4 separate regions of the Homo sapiens genome follow, and all the other regions are linked to region 1. The links come from fine-mapping of genetic effects on gene expression. A gene starts in region 1. Each other region holds a variant in brackets. All regions are shown on one strand. Distances are from middle to middle. Region 1 holds the start of TMEM65 (transmembrane protein 65). Region 2 has its middle 91 kb from the start of TMEM65. Region 3 overlaps TMEM65 (transmembrane protein 65). Region 4 has its middle 11 kb from the start of FER1L6-AS2.

What was found.
Region 2: its variant is fine-mapped to the expression of TMEM65 in monocytes after LPS (Quach 2016, PIP 0.95).
Region 3: its variant is fine-mapped to the expression of TMEM65 in whole blood (TOPMed, PIP above 0.99).
Region 4: its variant is fine-mapped to the expression of TMEM65 in fibroblasts (GTEx, PIP above 0.99).

Annotation. Positions count from the first base shown.
Region 1 is chr8:124,370,169-124,375,322 of GRCh38, forward strand. TMEM65 (transmembrane protein 65) reads right to left here and starts at 2,533. Exons shown (of 7, transcript NM_194291.3): 1 at 1,686-2,533. The coding sequence starts at 1,989. RefSeq lists silencers at 1,556-1,605, 1,616-1,745, 1,796-1,925, 2,056-2,325, 2,446-2,675 and enhancers at 2,400-2,694, 2,906-3,095.
Region 2 is chr8:124,278,842-124,283,995 of GRCh38, forward strand. No RefSeq gene overlaps it. Among named protein-coding and RNA genes, the nearest start is that of TMEM65, 91 kb to the right of the region's middle. The variant T/C (reference allele first, on the strand shown) is at 3,151.
Region 3 is chr8:124,327,107-124,332,260 of GRCh38, forward strand. TMEM65 (transmembrane protein 65) reads right to left here. Exons shown (of 7, transcript NM_194291.3): 2 at 3,642-3,686; 3 at 248-315. Among named protein-coding and RNA genes, the nearest start is that of TMEM65, 43 kb to the right of the region's middle. The variant GACA/G (reference allele first, on the strand shown) is at 2,004.
Region 4 is chr8:124,179,541-124,184,694 of GRCh38, forward strand. No RefSeq gene overlaps it. Among named protein-coding and RNA genes, the nearest start is that of FER1L6-AS2, 11 kb to the left of the region's middle. The variant G/C (reference allele first, on the strand shown) is at 2,265.

The sequences.
Region 1 (5,154 bases):
TACTGCTGGCATGTAAAAAATAATAATGTATGAGAAAAAAATTATTCAGTCACCTTGCAGGACATGTTTTTCAAGAACTGCCACAAAACTATATTCATAGGGCCCTCCAATCTTGTAACTTGTTGACAATGCAGAATTTCCAAGAAATTACTTGGAAAAGGTAAAATGTGTGTTCAAATAGTCTTGTCAGTGCAGAAAGATTCAAAAGTTAATGTTCTAGTACATGACTGACTATATTATTTTTCCAAGGAGCATATTTTCAGAATTGACTATTTTTAAACTGCATACTGAGTGCACACATAGATTACAAATGTGCTAGTGTTTCATTATGATTGCATATAACATCATGATTACACATTGAATAACGGAATTGATCGGACGTTACATTTTCCTGTAAAAGCACTGTGGGTAAACAATGTCTGGAATCAATCATCCACTATAAATTGGTCCACAATTTCCTGAACTGAGGGGGAAAACATCTGATTAAAAGCCACAACTAAAACAAGTTTCTGAAGTAGTACAGATAACGTCCTGCTTACATGAGGTAGATAATTCTTTCCTCCATTCCTGCACATCAGCTAAAGATATACTTTCAAGTCTGGCAAATCAAATGGCATGATCCGAATCAATGTGCTCTACACTTTGGAATCTATGAGATGTTTATGTACCTACCAAGTTTAGAGAGGAGAGTAAACTTTTTTAAAACTTTCAAACACATCAGAATGTAATACAAACTGAAGCAATGTGTTTTGTTTACATAACTGTATTTAAGTGGCAGAAATATTTTAAGACATCCATTTTAGTCGTTTGCTCCTTTCATCCTTTTTATTTTCTGAACTTTTAGCTTTTTCACCTAGACTCAAATTCTGCCCTACCCCATTCTGGACTCCTTTTAGAAATATCCTATTTTAACATGCTAGTTTAAAAATCGTTTTGCTTTCATCATTCCCAATTACTTTTGAGCATCAGTCTGACTTTTACTACAGAGCCACAGATTTCCAAAAAATATACCTCCTTATTTATTTCATTCTTTCAACCTCTGGGAAAAACCAAAACTGGAGTTTAACTTGAATCTGTCTTTCCATTTCTGGAGAAAATGTTTCCTTTGGCTGCTGAAATTAACGCAATCAGACATGTGTGGAAACAAGCAGCTATGAGCATCCCTGACTTTCGAAGCTACACCCCTTCTTTTGGCTACCCACCCATACGTCTTCATTTGATAACCGTTCAAAAAGTTTCTTCCTGCCAGGCGGGTTTGCAGCACTTTCTCGGAGCAGGCACAGCATGCCACCTGCACGGGTGCACGCTCGCAAGAAAGCAGCAAGGGCTAAGGGACAGGAGGGCTGGGGAGGGGAGGCACGGGGCAAATCAAAACTCAATCCCAACAGCGTTAACTGGCATTTTAGGCCGAAGCTCCGGATTCGGAGGCTGGGGAGGAAGTAGCTAGCGCTGGCCTCGGCTGCCTGGCACGACCCGCGCCCGTCCTACCTGCCTGGGGGAAACTCGGGCGGCGGAAAGTCTCCCCGCCCCCAGCCGTCCCAGGCGTGGGGCCAGACAGGCGAGGGGGGCGGAAGGGGGGCGGCGGCGGGGGTCCAAGATCCAGGGCCGCAGCGGGCTCCCGGTGGGCTGGCGAGAAGAGGAGGGCGTCGGGGCCCCCGGGCTCGCCCCCCACCTGCCCCCCTTACCTTGGGCAATGGCAATAGACTCGAAGCGGTGCAGCTCTTTGAGCAGGCAGCTCCTCTCCGTGGAGTGCAGGCTGTAGATGAAGTCGCGCGCGCCCTGCGCCGTGTTCAGCGCCTCCATGGGCTCCTTCTTGGGGTGCGTGCCCAGCCGCCTGGGGCCGCCCGGCAAGCCGCCGGGGGGCGCGAGCGCCAGCAGCCCCCGCCCGCAGCAGCACCAGGACGGCGGGCGGGGCGCGGCGGCGGCGGCCGGGCCCGGCCTCAGGCTGCGCGCGGTCCGGCTCCTCAGCAGCGGCAGCAGCCGGGACATGGCGAGCTGAGGAGCTGGGACCCCCGCGGCCGTCCGGCAAGGCGGTTTCTGGCGCGGCTGAGGCGAGAAGGAGCTGGGCTCAGCTCGACCCCGCCCCGAGGTCCTCCTGCCAGGCAGCCGAGGCGCCGGGCACCATGCACTCCGCGGGCCCGCGCGGCTCTCGCCTCCTGTTCCGTCCCCACTTCCTTTCCAAAAGGCCCGCGGCGGCTCCCGCCCCTCCGATGGGAAAAACTTTCTCTGAGACGGCCGGGCCCGGACAGCGCCCGGAGAGGGCGGGCGGTCGGTGCGGGCGGGCGCCTCCCGGCTGAGGAGGAGCGGCGCGGGCGGGCGGGGCGGGCTAGTGTGTGTCTCTGTCAGTCTGATCTTCCAGAGGATGAGTCAGCCACGCACCGCCCTCCTCCAGCGCCGCCCTACTCTCCCGCCAGCTTTCTCACCCTCTAGCCTCCCCACGTCCCCACTCTGTAAGGTTCCCGAGCCCTCAAAGCAGCCGCGCTCCCGAGCCGCAGCCGCCGCCGCCGCCGCTACCCCTAGCGGCAGCAGAAGTGGGAACGGGGCGGGGCGAAAGGGGAAGGAGGTGCGGGGGGGCGGGGAGGTGTGTGAGCGAGGCTGCGCAGGCGCAGTCTGCAGGCTCTCGGGCCGCCCTCCCTCCTAGGGGAGGAGCGTGCACACGCGTCCCCTCCCGCGCTGGTGCGTGAAGGTGGAAGGAGGTAGGGTGCGCCACCCTGTGCTGGCGTTAAACCTACAGATCGGAATAGGGAAAACGAGCTCTGGACCCCTCGCCCGCCAGGGTAGTACAGCTGCCACCCGGCCCCCAACCTGGGGCCACATCTGGAGCTTGTTCTGAAAGGTGCCCCGGCGTGCGGCCCCGCTCTGGACAGGCGGAGAGCTGCGCTGCCACCCCAGCCCCGACGGGATCACGGCGCTCTGCTCCGGAACGAAGCGCCCCAGCTGCGCCCTTCGCCAAGTCAGCGCCCACCGCCGCTTCGGCCGAGCAGGCCGGCTCTAATGCAGTCGCTCTGGGCGCCCCAAAGAGAAAGCGAAGCCAGTTCCACCCCTGCCCAAGGAGGGTCTGAGACTGAGCCCTTGACACGAGAACAGTCCTCCCCGTTCAGATTCCAGCAGCTGGCATGCAAATTGTTAATGCTAGAGGCAGAGGCAAGAATGTCATAGACCTTTCCTAGTGGTTGCTTGTGATTTTTTTGTCTCTGTGCTAAAGCGGGAAGAATAATTTGATTGTCCACGATTTCCCCTGATCCAGGTCCTAGGCATCTTTCAAGGCCCAGGTGAAAGGTCTCCTACTTCATTAAGCTGTCCCTAATCTCTTCTAAGGGAGGAGATCTCTGCTTTATCTGAACCTGTCTAATGACGCTTAGGCACCCTTAGAGAATAAATCCACTTAATAAATCTGCTGGAGCGTAATCAAGATCTAAATCCCATCCTTATCATAAACAGTGCTGCACTCAGCCCGGAAACTTGTAGGTAGTAAATGTGCTACATGTAAGTAGAATATTAAACTGAATAATGGAGGATTGTTACCACTAAAGCCTCCTACTTCTCTAACTCTGGTTCTCAAAGTGTGTCCCAGAGCTTTTTAGACGTGAGAAATAGTGGACCCCACTTCACACCTCCTGAATCAGAACGTAGACATTGGACCCAGTCATGTGGGTTTTAACAAGCCCTCCAGTAATAACACACACGAAAGCTTGAGAAACACTGATGTCTCTTAAACATTGAAAGGAATCGCTTCTTTTTTAAATTCCAAGGTGATGCCTCTGTGATGTAATAACAACAATTAAGAATGCTCTCTGTGGAAATGAAAGCTTTTTGAGTGCATAAAGTATATCTTCCTTGTCTTTGAAACCCCCTTCATTCCCTAGTGTGCACTGGAATCCTCTGCAGAGCTATTTCAGTCTCAGGCTCATGGGAGTACCACCCCATCCCCCCCACAATTTCCTACCCCCAAGATATTCTGATTCACTGGGGTGGATCACAGGCCCCAGACCTGGGAAGTGAGGTTTGAAAAAAGTTCTTCAGTAAGAACCCATTCCCAACCACCTCCAGAATAGTAGTTTAGTGTGTAGCCTCCAGAGACAGACTGTGGAAAGTTCGATCCCTGGATCAACCGTCTCCTAACTATGTGTTAGTATTAGATTGTTATAGTAGTGATCCCCAATGAACTACACCTTCTATTATCCGCTCCGTTGTGTGGTCCACCTCTACATTGACTGTGGGCTTGGCTATTTGACTTGTTTTGGTCAATAAATAGGAGGACATCATAAACGTGATATGATACATGTTTGCTCATTGGGGTTTGCTGTAATGCTTTTGCTATATTACTATAGAATATTTAATTCTATTATAAAACAAGAGAAACTAAAATGTAGAAGCAAGTCACTTATGAGAAAGGTTACACATAGAATGAATGGATATGGGTTGAACATAGATAAAAAGGATGGAACAAATGAAAATGCTGCTTTAGATAGAGGCAGAAAGACAAAGTGGACTTTTAAGTATTAATAAGGTACAGATCATACTATCTTCAGATTTACAGCCATGTCATCCCTAAATTGCATACCTACTGGTAACACCCATTGTAACGCTATTATGGCCTCATGTAATCTCTTCCCAAGAAAAGCAGATAAACCCCCAGCTACAAAGCCAACTAATGCCAGCTACCATTATAACCAGACACACTTGCCCCTCAGCTCTGTAACAGAACAGACATATGTTGAGCCCAGGCCCCTTCAGTCTGTTGAGTCACCTTACTTACTCTCCAGTCTGGTCCTTGTAGCCACACTATGTGCTGAGAAGACTGGATGGTGGAGAGGGATAAGACATGAGAACATTGCATAAAACAGAATTTAGGTGCTATGGTCCTTCAGCCTATCCTAAGCTTATTAATCTACCCTATCTCTTTCCCCTTGCTTCTCACTCTGTTTTATGTTGGTTGGTAAACTCTTCTGGTTATTATTGCTGCTCTTTGGGTAGACACATTATGCCAAAACTTAGTAGTTTAATTAGCCAATTTATTTTGCTCTTAATTTTGAGGCTCAGAAATTGGGGAAGAACTTACTTGGACAGTTATTTTATTGGAGTCGTTTATGTAGTATCAATCAGATTTCAACACAACTGCTGTCATTTGAAAGTTCAGCTGGGCTGAATAGC
Region 2 (5,154 bases), 91 kb before region 1:
ATGTCCATTCTTATTAGAATTTCTGGAAGAAACAGGCAATGGTTCCCTGAAATACCACTGGACTGTCACAAGCATTTCAGTTGGGTTTCATGCACTGTCTGAAGAGATTGATCCAAGCACCTTGGATACATCCGTAGCTCAACATTAAAAGGCCAAGGTTATATCTTCCACTCCCATCCTTCCCCTCCAGAGCCCCCCTCGGTGGAAATGACAGAGTCAGGTAAGACACCTTCCTGGGGGAAAGCATATCTGCACTCAGGGAACATGTTCAAGAATTCAGCCTCTGCCTCTTCAGGCCTTATATGATGTATGGATTACAGTATAAAAAGATCAAATATCTGGAGGCACAGGACTTGGATTCTAATCTTGGATCCTAATTCTGGCCCTGTTGGTTACCAGCTGTGTGATCTTGGCTAAGTCACCTACCCTCTGTAAGCCTCAAATTCCTCATCTGTAATATGGAGGACCTACCTCACAAATCAGATGATGAGAGGGAGAATGTTTGGGGGTATAGCCATACTATACAGTATGGCTCAGGCCTAAGGTTCTTGAATTTGCTTGTTTTTCCTCTTGGCCTATTTTACTACAGGTTAAAAATCTGTTATCTGGCCAGGTGCAGTGGCTCACACCTGTAATCCTAGCACCTTGGGAAGTCAAGGTGGGTGGATCACTTGAGATCTCAAGTTTGAGATCAGCCTAGGCAACATGGTGAAAACCTGTTCTACAAAAAATACAAAAATTAGCCGGGTGTGGTGGGGCACACCTGTAGTCCCAGCTGCTTGGGAGGCTGAGGTGGGAGGATCGCTTGAGCCCAGGAGGCGGAGGTTGCTGTGAGCCAAGATGGCACCACTGTACTCCAGCCTGGGTGATAGAGCCAGACCTTGTCTCAAAAACCAAAACAACGACAACAAAATCTCTCTTATCTACAATTCCAAAATGCAAAAGCATCTGAGAAACAATATTTTTTTGTAATTCATTTGGCTGCAAAACTTGTACTGAATTGATGAGTCCATTTATAGACTTTATCCCACTTATGATGAATATTCATCAGTTTTACTGCAGAAATAATAACGTGTTTGACTTGAGAATGTTGTCTCAGTTACCTCTGGGGGTGTCAAATACTGCATGAGATATTCTGAATTATGAAACTCATCTGGCCCCATGAGTTTTGCTTAACAAGTTATGGACTTATATTCTAGGAGTATATCCTAATCTATACTCATTGATGTATCACCTGCATGATTTTGTCATATCCTTCTAACACCTGTATTAATACTTGCTTCATACACTTTAGTTGAGTCCATTTTTATTTACTTTTCCAAATGAACCTTGTTTAAATGCACAGTGAAAAATACCTAATTATTAATAAAAATGTTTGTCTACATGACATTTCAAAGCATCCTGCTTATCACAGTGAAATGCACCCCACACTTTAAGCAACAGTCATCTCAAACTAGCACAACGGGTTAGCTCTTAAATAGTTGGAATGCAAGCAATAAGGGTGACATCTGTGAGGTGGACTCTTCTTTGAGGTTTTCAGTTATAAATATTCAGCAGTACAATTCCACCAAATGCTGGTTGCATTCCTGCTGTGAACACGACACTGCTTAACCACATAAGCTATGATGTTTTGTTGGAAAACCACAAACAGCCAGTAAAGATGGCTGATGGAGCGCCACTCAGAACAGCTTACCTATGATAAGTTCTTTCACAGACATTCATGTCCATTTCCCTCGTTCACCAACAGGAGAGGTAGTATTAGAAGAATTTAAAACAAAAAACCAGGCCCACACGGATTGAGAGCTTGACCCAAGATCTCACAAGTTCCAGGCAGAGCTGAGAGTCCTGGAATTCAGGTCCCTGCTGCTGACCTGGACATGCCTCTGCTACATAAAGCCACAGTCTTTCCTGCTCAGGGCACTGCTGACGCCACTTTCTGCCCTGGTTTATACGTTAATATTCACAAAAGCTGCTGGGAGCCTGGACTTTCATAAAACCAGCCTGCTCTCGGACTAAAATACCCCCCTGTGGCCTAGTTACGATCCTTTCCTGTTCTCCATTAAAAAGCTCCGCAGTGGCTGAAGGGGTCTCACAAGGCTTTTAGAGGTTTAGCAAATCTTCAAAATGGACCAAGAAGAATTGGTAACTGTCTTAGCATTTTCCACAAAGTTAGAGAAACAGCAGTTAGTGGAAACAGGGCAAGGCCCAGATAATCTGTTCCAAGGCCACATATGACATCATAATTTAGCCTTTTGGTAATCAAAAATTTCCCAATGATCCGAACAAGTAAAGGAAAATCCCAACCCACCTGTATTAGTCCATTCTCACAATGCAATAAAGAACTGCTCGAGACTGGGTAATTTATAAAGGAAAGATGTTTAATTGATTCACAGTTCCGCATGTCTGGGCAAGCCTCAGGAAACTTACAGTCATGGCAGAAGGGGAAGTAAATATGTCCTTCTTCACATGATGGCAGGAAAATAACGCAGAGCGAAGGTGGTGGGGCGGGGGCACTGGGCAGGGAATGCCCCTTATAAAAACCATCAGCTCTTGTGAGAACTCGCTCACTATCACGAGAACAGGACGGCAAAATGGGGGAAACTGCCCCATGATTCAGTTTTCTCCTCCTGGTCCCTCCCAGGACATGTGGGGATTATGGAAACTACAATTCAAGATGAGATTTGGGAGGGGACACAGCCAAACCATATCACCACCCTCTCTTTTTACCAGAATTAATTATTAATGTTTTCGGCTTTCCTTTTGCCCCATGTGTGAGGTCATAAAAAAAAATTATGCTGGGGGCCAGGAATCGTGGGTCTTAAGTTCTGCCCTGATACCACCTAGCCACGGGCCCAGGCAGGCTCTAAGGAGCTGGCCCACGGTGTAGTACGGAATTCCGGTGCTGAGGGAAACAGACATATCTTTTCATCCTACCTCATCTTGCCCTTTGGATGAGTTGTTTTAAATTTCTCTGAGCCCCACCTTTCTTACCTCTAAAACCTATCTCAAAGGTGTTGATACGGATTAAAGAACAAAATGATGTAAAACACTGATCCCAGCCACAGCACAAAGCAAGAGGTAAATAAATAGTAGCTGGTATTGCTACTGCCAATTCAGATAGTCTGGGCCTCGGACCAGGTTATATGAATA[T/C]ATGTAATGAACAGCTCTTGACTTCAGTGATTATGGATTTATCACCCAGAACAGAATGAGTGGGGAAACATCATGCAGCTGACAGACAAGCTCATCACAATTTAATTTCCAAATACATAAATTTTTCTGGCTTTGAAGGGTTATTCAAAGGGTGCCTTGAGAAAATGTCAACCAGCATAATTTTAAATATGGCCGGTTCTTGACTAGTGGTGGAAAAGGAAGTCAGGAAAAATGGAAATAAATACCATTGATGAATAATTATTATTTTAGCCTGCACCTTCAACTTCCAGGTCAGAACTTTAAAAGTGTGTTTACCTGATTTGAGTTTCACCCAGTTATCTTCCTTGGTTTTTCCTTTACTGTAGGGAAATAGCCCAGGTTAGGCAGCCAGAGAGAGGCAAGAGAAGACAGGAGGTCCTGAGGCCCATATTTTGTAAGATAGAGTTGCCTGACCAATTATTGTATCTAGGTGCCTGTTAAAAATGCAGATCTCCCAGCCCCAAATGAATGAGGCTATCTGGGGCTGGTTGTTGAAAATATGCTTTTTTTTTTTTTTTTTTTTTTTGAGACGGAGACTCACTCTGTCGCCCAGGCTGGACTGCAATGGCGCAATCTCAGCTCACTGCAACCTCCACCTCCCAGGTTCAAGCCATTCTCCTGCCTCAGTCTCCCAAGTAGCTGGGATTACAGGTGCCCACCACCACGCCTGGCTAATTTTTGTATTTTTGGTGGAGATAGGGTTTCACCTGGTTGGCCAGGATGATCTCGAACTCCTGACCTCAGGTGATCCGCCCCCCTTGGCCTCCCAAAGTGCTGGGATGACAGGCGTGAGTCCCCACACCCAGCTAAAAATACGCATTTTTAATAGGCACCCTTGATACAACCAAAACTTTGAAAACCACTGATGTTAGGCCACATTATAAGCATGTAATAAATGCCACGTATACTTATCTCAGTAGGATTTCTTCCTGTCTCTAGTAGAAATTTATGGTCAAGGAGGAGTAAAGGACAAGCAAACAAACCATCCTAATAATTGTACAGCCAAAGAATACAGGTGAAAACAAAGTACAGTGGTGTCCCAAGGCAGGGGTGATTAGCCTACTTGAGGGCACAGAGGGACAGTTGTCAGAAAGATTTTCCCCAAGTGGAAGCTTCACCTCATTTTCCAAGTGGGTGAAGTGGGTGAAGTTTAGCAGTTAATGGATGGATGGGGAAACAGAACACAAGCAGGAAGAATAACATGAACAAAGCAGAGAGGCTCATTTGAGGAGCTGCATTGGTTCTGTATGTGGCTGGAAGGCAGGGAGTGAGGTTTGGAGGGATAGCGGAAACATTTCTTCTCAGCTGTGCAAAATTACAAATCATACTTTTCTTCCTCAAAGAAGGAAAGCGATCTCAAGTTTCTGGCATGAGAAAGCATAAACAAATCTCTAGGCTCTACTCTGACTTGATGGTTTTTTCCTTTTCCTGATTTTAAAACTCACTTGCATCCCACACCAAACCCAAGTAGATGCTAAATATAGTCGGCTCTTTGAGCCTTTTCCATTTACTCTGCCGAGTCAGTCTTTTCAATTGTGATTTATGCTCAAATTGTGGTTGAGTTAATTTAGTCAATTAACTTCAGTGAAACCAAAGGTTTATTTTCCATAAAGAATTTTCTTCTTATGCTTTTGAGATATTGTTATAATGAGTTTTGTTATATGCTTATGGATCAACTATTTTAATTGGGTCTATTTCACTTATCTATTACTGTGTAACAAACCATCCCAACATTTAATGGCTTAAAACAACAACCTTTGTATTTGCTCACTCTCTGATATTCAGACTGGGCTTAGTTGGATAAGGTTTCTGCTGATCTTGATGATGATCACTAATTGGCTGAATTCAGTGTGAGTTGGATGGGGGCTGGGCTCCGCTGAGATGCTGAGATGGCAGGGTTTTTCTAAGGCCTTTTTATATAGCCCCTCTAGCAAGGTAATTAGACTTTTTATATGGCAGATCACA
Region 3 (5,154 bases), 43 kb before region 1:
CTTTAATGTTCTGTCTGAATGCTCTACCAAAAGTCTATTTGTCTAAATGCTTTACCTAAAGTCTTAATGATTAATAAATATTAAATATAGCTTAATTAAAATTGAGCTATAGTCTGAGATATAGTAAAAAATATCCTTGTTCATTATGATATTAAAACTTTATAATCACAATAGAAAAATTATTAGGAAAATGTAGACCACATTAATTTATGAACTCAAAATAGAAGCAGTGAGAGAAAGAACTTACAGCAACAATCATAATTGCATTATCCAAAAAGCCAAACCCTATGAAAGGTATCGCATTGTGGATGAATACTGAAAAACATCAAAAACAGAAAAATATATTTTAAGATTTCTATAACTTAGAATGACAAAAACAGATGATATGATCAAAGTATCCTAAACAGACTTGATAATCTCTAGAATTTGATTCTCATTTTCCAGAGCCAATAGATGCTGCTACTGCTATAAGTAGAAACTATATTGGGAAAAAACAAAACAAACCAGAAAAAGTATAAAACATGTAAAAATAACTGTGTTAGACTTTTGTGTTTTCTTACTGGTAACACACACACACACACACACACACACACACACACAAATATATACATACAATTAACAGAACAAATTAGTAAACATATATGAGTACCACATTTTACCTGATTGCTACTGACATTAATCTCTTTTTCTATTATGACTAAAGTCTGATATTATAAAATCGATTTCTGTATTAGAAATAATGAAAATGTCCTAAATCAAATGTCAGAAAAGTTATTTGGGTGCTTTTACTAACTAATTTTTTTAAAGAAATGTTAGAAAAAGGTGATTATCTCATCTATATTACCTCATCTATGTGCAGTCTTTTTCCCCCCTCAAAATTCATCAATATTCCCAAATGCTATTGCAAACTATAAACAATCAATATTTGATTTAAATCAAACTATCACTTCACCTCTTGCTACCAAAAACACACCTTACTTCATCTATTGGGTATATAAATTCAATGATCTGAGATATTAGAAGTGTAACTAGGTCACGCCTGTAATCCTAGCACTTTGGGAGGCTGAGGCGGGCGGATCATGAGGTCAAGAGATCGAGACCATCCTGGCCAATATGGTGAAACCCCATCACTACTAAAAATACAAAAATTAGCTGGGTGTGGTGGTGCGTGCCTGTAGTCCCAGCTACTTGGGAGGCTGAGGCAGGAGAATCACTTGAACCCAGGCAGCAGAGGTTGCAGTGAGCTAAGATTGCACCACTGAACTCTAGCCTGGCAACAGAGCAAGACTCCATCTTAAAAAAAAAAAAAAATTGTAACTAGGAAGAACTAATACCTACATATTTTTTATACATTTATTCTCATTTCTTTCATATTTACATCTTCAGCAGAATATTGAGGGCATGGTAGATGCTCAAAAAATATTATTTCATTAAGTTGAAGACCACTAACCTGGAAAGGAAGAGAATTCCAGATTGGGAGAATTGAAGGCAGACTGTGAAATAGATTAAAAGCTGGGAATAGGTAAAAGACTTTATTCTAATTAATCTATAAAATTGCCAAGGTATAGTGAACATCCGTTCAACTGAGGACTTTTCTCAACAAACATTAAAATGCTGAGTTTTGTACTACGTCCAAAAAAATAATCCCTTAAACCAACTGGTTATATGTGTCTATTAATTTTTAGAGTCTTTTTTTCTTTTAATGCAGTTATCTCCACAGAAAGTATAATTGAAATATAATCCAGAAGTTATAAAAATTCGATATTACTATATTGAGCTCTGCACCTAGCAGGAAAGGCTAATAAGCACTCAAAAAAAAGCACTTCTACCCACAACCACTATAAATGACTAAGACCACGGGACAATACTATATACAGTATAAGAATACTATTATATTCAATATTATTATAGCTATACAATATTATATAAACCAGTACATAATAGGTATAAAATAGGTCATTTAAAATTTCGTCTTGTTTTAAGTAAAAATGTCCAAGATCAAG[GACA/G]ACATTTTTAATTACAAAGAATATTATTTGTTATTAAAGGTTGTAAAAATCAAGTAAAACATTAATAAAATGGGATTTTTTTTCAATTAAAGAGTCTAGCCTTAGTTTTTTCACTTATTGCCTAAATCTGGTTATTTACTGAACACTCAAAATTTTATAAAAAGCAGCTTCCAGAACCAATACACATTACAAATTTAACAGGTTAGAAGAGTATAATGAAATTCTAAAAAATCACTAAATAAAACATTTACAGTGAAGAGAAAGCTACTTAAGTACTGAAAAATAATGATGAAACTGGTTAGGATTAATTAGCATTTTGGGATTCTTTTAATAGCATCTCTAAAACTGGCCAGTTACAAATATCTTAAAATTAGGTGATAAGCCCATTAAGTTAAGATTACACTAATTGCTATCTTAGTAAAAACTTGGTCAGTAAAACCAAGGCACTCTGTTACAAACAATCACTTTGAACTATACGATGTATGTTTTTAGTGTTTATACCTATATAAATATGTCCTAAAAATTATAATTTATTTTAACTAAAAGGAAAAAATATAGTTTTTCAAAAAGTTAAATAAACATGTACAGAGCACTCCACTGGGCACCTGAGATACAAAGATAAATAAGACTTGGTTCCCAGCCCTAAAGGGGTTTAGGTATGATAACACAGCCATACAAACAGTAAATTTCAATACCACCTACAAAAAATGATAATAGTATACAGTATTATGAACTATAGATTGTATGAATCTAAGGTGGGAGAATCATAAATTACTTGGGAACACAAGTGTTAAAGAATTTTTAAATTGTTTTGGTATTTGAGGAAAGTTACTAATCTCTAATATAAATTACATTCTACCTGTCAGAGAAAAAATAACTGGCCATTAGGTTTTTTTAAAAATTATATAAATTTGCTCTCTAGTATATAATGATCTCCTACTAATTTGTGGCTTCTTCAATTTACTCTCAGAAACACTATTCTATAACTTGCCAGTTGTTAGCAAATCACGTTTCATATTTAGCTTTAATTTACAACCTACTCTAATTCACTATACTGTTAAATAATTCACTTCTTCCATCTTTATAATAACATCCCAACTTGTTTTACATTATTTTGGTATATTCTTGAATATTTATTCCTATCATAATAGAGAAAAGAAAGAACACTAGCAGCATTGTAATAAGGTCCTTCTTCACGTAGTTTTAAATAAACTTTATTCTTTTCATTCTTACAAACAGCCAGCCGGAAACATTTTCTCTACCAGAGAACAGTTGTATCTCGCCTTGGGCCTAGAAATTCTAGTTCTGCATTTACCCAACTTAAATTCAAACTAAAGTAAATACATCCTTTTTCCTAGAAATTAAGAAAACTTCTATCATAAAAATAATTCTATTTCTAAATGGCAACAATATTTTAATAATATTAGATATTTTTAACAATATTAGATATTTTACAATATTGTGTTACATCCTTAGCCAAGTTTATAAACTTTGTGCTTCATATAATGAACAGGATAATCCACTCTATCTGGAAAGATTTAATTTACTGACTCTTCTGTGCTATCAATGAATGATACAGTTATTTCAAGGCCAAAAGACAGATGAACATATATTTAACAATTATAGAACCATTACCATATCTCAGCTGTCCTGGGGTGGGTGGTGGAGCTTCCAATTTTTCTAAAGGGGAGAAAAAGGATGTGGGGCAAGAATTAGTTACTACAGCGTGATATTTTTTATTACAATGAAGAAAATACCAGAAGATTTACAACGTGGGAGAATATCAGAGTTTATTCATAAATTATCTTTAGGTTAAGGGACCACATTTGTCCATACAGAAAATATTAATCAGTATGGATTAAATCAGAAGGCCAGCAAATGAAACTGAGCTTAGTTACAAGCTTAACATGGACTCTAGCCCTGGGTAAGTTCATTTGTTTTTTGTTTTTCAGATTTCTTTAAAGTCCTTACATCTAGATAATGAGTCTGTTTGCATTAATTACACTAGAAAAACACTTTAGAAATAAAGGTACTCTTCTTTCAGATGGCAACCCTAGATGACTTAAGAAATACACAAACAAGCATCATTGATAGTGGAAAACATGAATATTCAAATAGATCTAGATATCTTTAAAATGAAGAAAATATTTTTAAAGCAATGTATGAAAACAATGACTTCACTGAATTGTATTTTGTTCCTTAATCTCTGTTGATATAACTGAATATTTTAACTTTTATAATATATTAATAGTATTATATAATATTGATATATATTAATTAATATATAAGATATATTATATTGATATATAATATAACTGAATATTTTAACTTTTGGAACCTATACACTGGATAATAGGGTATTCCATACATTAAAACAACTTTTAAAAGTAGGGTGTTGTTCAGAATCACAAGTAACAAAGTTTTCCCAAGTATAAGCCAGAGAGTATCTTTACGTGTCAACATTATACCTAAAAATTAACAATTATTACAGGCAGCAGCCTACCTGGTCTTATAACAATAAGCATCTCACCATTTGTTTAAGGTAAAAAGGTAGAAAATTCTACCTTCTTTATGATCAACCAACTGGACAGAATTAATTGTTATCATATAGAGAAGAACCCATAGAGTGGATCACTCTAAAGATTTAGTACAACCAGATTATCCAAAGAAACGCATTACAAACTAGATGTACATCTTCAAAAATATTTATTTATATTTTATAACAACAAAAGAACTAAGGAATTTAGTATAAAAAAGTAAAAGTCAAATCTCCATTGATAACCTACATAAAAGGAAATATGGTCCACATTAGTGACTGGTATTTTCCAAGTTCCATAATGGCTTTACAGTAAGAAATACACTAAAACCTCGAGTTTAATTAACTTTCATAGTATTTAGAAAGTTCTAAGAAGCAAACTTAAGCTTTATTTTTCCTTTTTTAGAAGAATTAAGAAATGAAGATATATATACTAATCTTACAGAATTTCACATCTGATTAAAATATATTCTTATTTTTGATTAGCATCATTAACTCAAAATCTCCTTTGAAAGCATCCAAGTGGTTTGCCAAATTTCTAACTAAGAATACAGGATACTGCTATACTCCAGAGAATTTTCTGGTGAAGTAAACATGCAAAAGTGGTTATTT
Region 4 (5,154 bases), 190 kb before region 1:
GTGGTGGATTGCACTACAGTAATACCAGTGAGGACGAGAAAAATGCATAGATTTCAGAGCGTTTGGAAGCTCTGGCCAACGGGACTTGATTATTAATGAGAGGTGCAGAGTGTGTGTGTGTGTGTGTGTGTGTGTCTGTGTGTGTGTCTGTGTGTGTGTGTGTGTGTGTGTGTGTGTGTGTGTGTGTGTGTGTGTGTGGTGTTTGGGTGGGGTGGTGCTAGCTGCAAGGGCATGAAGCCTGAGTTTATAAAGGGAGTGTCTGCTGTCACAGGCGTTCTGGGGAAAGGGCTGTAGCTCTGCTCCCCTTCGTGCCATGCCTTGCTCCCACCAACAGCTGTTTCTTTCTACCTGGACAACAGATGCCTGAACATCCTAGGACCTATCCTCTTTTTAGAGATTACACGTTTGTGTTGTAATAATCCATTGTGTGTCTGCCTCCTCTGATTGAGCTGTGAATTTCTTATGGCAGGGACTGGGGCTGGGAGAAGTACTGACATAGCACTCACTAAGTTCAGTCTTCAGACCACTAAATTGGGGGTTAGGATTGAACATGCAGTTTCTGGGGCTCCAACTCCAGACTTCTAGAATCAGATTCACTTGAAGTAGGGCCCAGGAATCTGCCTGTTAATCAACACCCCAGGTACATCTGAAGCTTAAGAAGTTTAAGATTGTGCTTGTTACATGCCAAGAAAGATTCCTTTGGACTATAAAGGGAGATCCCTTGGACTATAACGTCAAGAGGATATACAGTAAAGAGGACAAGCTCTGGAGTCAGCCTGAGACCTATTTCAGATCTTCATTGAACCTCAGTGCTCCCATCTCTAGACTGGGGTACTATGCCCACTCCTCAAGGATAAGTGGGCTACTGTAATCTGTGAAGCACAGGATGTGGCACAAGGCACCCACTCAATGAACACTGGTTGAATAAACTTGCAAAAGACGGTGACCGCAGCATGCAAGCAGATTTGTTTGCATTTTCGTCTCAGATTTCCTTTGCTACTTCATAGTCACTAAATACCAGTTTGACTTGAACAGCAGTTACATGCTAATGACAAAAAGCAGTGGCGTGCTTGTTCTCAGAAACCTGAGAATCCACTGGCTCTGTTAAAATGAAATTCTACTGAGTTGACCACAAGGACATTTCCTTGTCCCCAGAAAAAGACTCGCCTAAATTAAGTTGCAGTGTAACCTCTTCCAAATGTTGCCCAGACTGAAGAGTGCTTTCATATTATTCCTTTATCCAACTCTCTTTCCATCTGGCCTCTTTGTAAAATTCTTCCTCCGTTGTTTCAGAACTAAAATGACACCTTCTTAGAATTCCAGCATGCTACTTCTCAGTAGAAAGTGTGGTATATCAGAGGCAGCGGGCTTGGGAGTCCGTTGGGAGGCCTGATTTGGAAGGCCAGCTCCAGCAGTTACAAGCCGAGCAACCCTGAGCAAGTCACGTAACTCTTCTAAGCCTTGATGATAATCTCTGTAAAGTGGGTATGACAACAGTTTCCACATTATAGGGCTATTATGAGGATTAAGTCATCCTTGCACAGCCCTTAGAATGAAGGTTAGCACAGAGTAAGCACGTAGGTTGGCTGTTTTCAGATGTATTCAGTGGCAAATATGTGGCTGGTCCCTGAATCTCTCGGCTTTGTAGACTTATATGCTCTTTAACTCCACTCAGTGAGGCCTGTCTCTCTCTCTCTCTTAGGTCCAATTTCCATGTTCAATTCATAATCAAACCTACCTCAAAAAAAAGAAGTGAAGAAAATTTTCGCCACTAATGTGTTATTGAAGTGTCACCCTCAAATAATGAAATTCAGAAAATATGATGAAGTATTGAGTTTATTTCAGCACAAAGCTTGAGGATAGCCACTTGGGAAACATAGACTCCAAAGGAATGGGGTCAGTGCTCCAAAGTGGAGAAGTTAAGGTTTCACTTATAAGGCAGAGACAGAGAAGTGTAATAGGGTTACAACATTTTCCATGCAAGGTCAGTACATGTTACAGTGATTTGATTGGTTACAGCTTGTTGCATGCCAAGGAAGGTTCCTTTAACATTCCATAAGGAGGGGTAATGGCCTGGAAAGGTCTTAACTCTGGCACCATTCGGTCCTTCCGAATCATTTACAGGAAAAACCAGAAGTTGCAGCTGCATGCTATATGACTCAGGTCACATGGCCGCATTGCTCTCAAGGCTCAACATAATTTAAAGTTCCGCCAGCTTTAGGTTTGAATTATTTAATTTCACAACAGAAAGTAACTTTTCCTCT[G/C]ACCTTTTCTGGAAGAATTCGTGGTTTCCTAAATTCCAGCCCAAAACTTATCTCAATGCTGCCAAACATATCTCCATGAATCAGCCAAATTCCTCAATAGGAAGGAAGCTTTTAAAAATAAAAATTAGACCCATTGACTGGGCATAATGAATAATAGAAGTAGTAGAAGGAAGTTATAATACTCATCCTTCCACTCTTAATTTCTGCCCAGGGTTCACGGCAAAGCAGCTTTGTGGCCCAGGCATTTTGTAAAATGGCTGTGGCTAGTGGCAGAAGGCACTTTGTGGCTCCTGCTGGACTAGGACTAGGCTGTCCTGAGCAGCTGCAATTAAAATCAGAGCACTTGGGTAGAGTCTGAAGTCTGTCTCAACAGGAGGACAGTATGCCAGCTATAGCTGCTCCCTTCTCTAGGGCTCATCTCCTTAGAACAGCGGTTCTCAAACTTTGCTGCATTTTGGAATCCCCATGTTGGAAGATGGGGAGTTTTGAAAAATCTTAATGCCCAGGCCAATTACTTAAGAATTTCTGACTTGGGGGGAGAGGGTGGGGTGGGGATATGTAGGACTCAAGCATCAGTAATAGTGTTTCAAATTTTAATGTGCATATGAATTGCTTTGTTAAAAATTGTTTCAACGTTGAATACAGATTCAGATTCAATAGGTCTGGGTTGAGGAAAGCGATTCTGCATTTCCAACAAGCTCCCAGGTGAGTCTTCACTGCTGGTCTAAGGAGCAGAATTTGGGTAGCAAAGTCTTAGACAGTTCTTCCTCCCACCGCATCCTGTACATCAAAATTAGTGCCTGACCCTCACCGGTCCATTGCCCAAGGTTGTAACATCAGAGATGAAGGCCTTTTCATTAGTTTATTTATTTCCAGGACCCAGTCTAAGGAAAGTGAGCTAATTATTATGGATTTATCTGCATTATCTTGTTTAAGGAGAAGACACTTAGAAAAATGGGAATTGAAATTTGTTCTTGCCATCAGATCTTGCTGATCTATAAAACACCATTATCCTTATACTTATTATTATAGAACTTTCCATTTTGAGCTTCTCCTTTCTTCCAGCTCCCAGGTCCTATAATAATATTCTTTAAGGACTTGCCCACATGGAGCAAAGCCAAATGGTGCAATGGTTCAGGAAGGTCACTAAGGGCCAAATGGTGTGTGCTTAAATTCTGGCCCTACCACTTAGTGGCTGTGTGAACATGGATGATTTATTTAACCTCTCTGTGCCTCGGCTTTCCCATCTGTAAATTGGAAGTTATAGTAAGTAAATGAATATATCTACAAGTAAAGGCTAAATGCTGTCCCTAGAACCTTATGTGAATTAACTCTCTTAGTCCTTATAATAATTTTACCAGGTTAACTTATCATCCCCATTTTGTAGATGGGTTAAGGATTTTGCCTGAGGTCACACAGCCAGGATTTGAGACCAGGTAGCCTGACTCCAATACTCATCCTGTTAACTACCAAGATGGACTATCTCTCACATGTAGCAGCTAGAACTACAACGGTGGTCTGCTAACTCTCAGCAAGGGGCTCCAGGACTGGGTCATACTTCAATTGTCTGCCATAGTCAGCCACAATCCCTCAATCCCACAGTCCCCCTGCAGTCTCGCATAAGGCCCTAACACCTACGCAGCCACTGTGCAAAGAACATGCTCCACCACCCCCCTTCTATGGGCTGACAACTGGACCATCTCAGGCAAGGTCTTTTGCATCAGCTCAATTCAATGAATCATCCACATGGCTGTTCACTTTCAGAGCACATTCTAAACACTGCTCTGAGTCAGCCTCCTGTGCTCAGTTTTGGAGGTGCTCAGATGAATTCAAACAAGCCCCTGCTTTAGGGAGCTCAGAGGGGCCTCAGGGAGGAGACAGATGTGTGAGAGATGCCTATGGTAACTCTCAGGAAGTGTTTAAAAGGGGAAATGAGGCCAGGTGTGGTGGCTAACGCCTATAATCCAAGCATTTTGGGAGACCGAGGTGGGCGGATTACCTGAGGTCAGGAGTCTGAGACCAGCCTGGCCAACATGGCGAAACCCCATCTCTACTAAAAATACAAAATAATAATAATAATAATAATGAGCTGGGCGTGGTGGCGCATGCCTGTAGTCCCAGCTACTCGGGAGGCTGAGGCAGGAGAATCACTTGAACCCAGGAGGCAGAGGTTGCAGTGAGCTGAAATGGCACCACTGCACTCCAGCCTGGGTGACAGAGTGAAACTCTGTCTCAAAAAAAAATAGAAAAATAAAAAATAAAAAGGGGTAATGAGCAAAGAGAGAAAAGCTCTGGCTGGGCACATCAGGGAATGCTTCTAAGAGGTAACACATAAGCTCAAGAATTATCAGGCAAATTAATGAATTAATCAGTTCACTGATAACACCATGCCTTGGTGCTAAAGATACAAGGGTATACTGGATAATTTGTTTCCTCCTCAGATCTGTTGGCTACTTCTCCCACCTGCTCTGTGCCCCCAGGAAGCTGACCCAGATGGACTACATTAGCAGGCTGCTTTGCCCTCTGGCTTCGGGTTGTGTTTGGCCAGGGAGAGGCATCAAGAGGAGATTAGCAGGTGGAAGAAGAATGAGGTTGGGTGTTTATTCCCTAAAGCATGGCCCCACAGGGTTGCCTAAAGTTGATTGCATTCCTCCACCCAAGGCCTTGGCTCCTGTTGGGTGACCCTCTCTATAGCTCTTCGAGTTCTAGATTTCTTCACTTGTCCTTTCAGACCTATAAGGAGGCTTCCTGCAGGGATTAAAAATTCCCCAGATGGAGTAAGAAAAAAAGCCATTACTTATTTATTCAATCAATGCATATTTATTGAACATTCAGATATCAGACCCATTTGAATGAAATGCTGAGCTTGGAAGTTTTAATAATGGTGGGA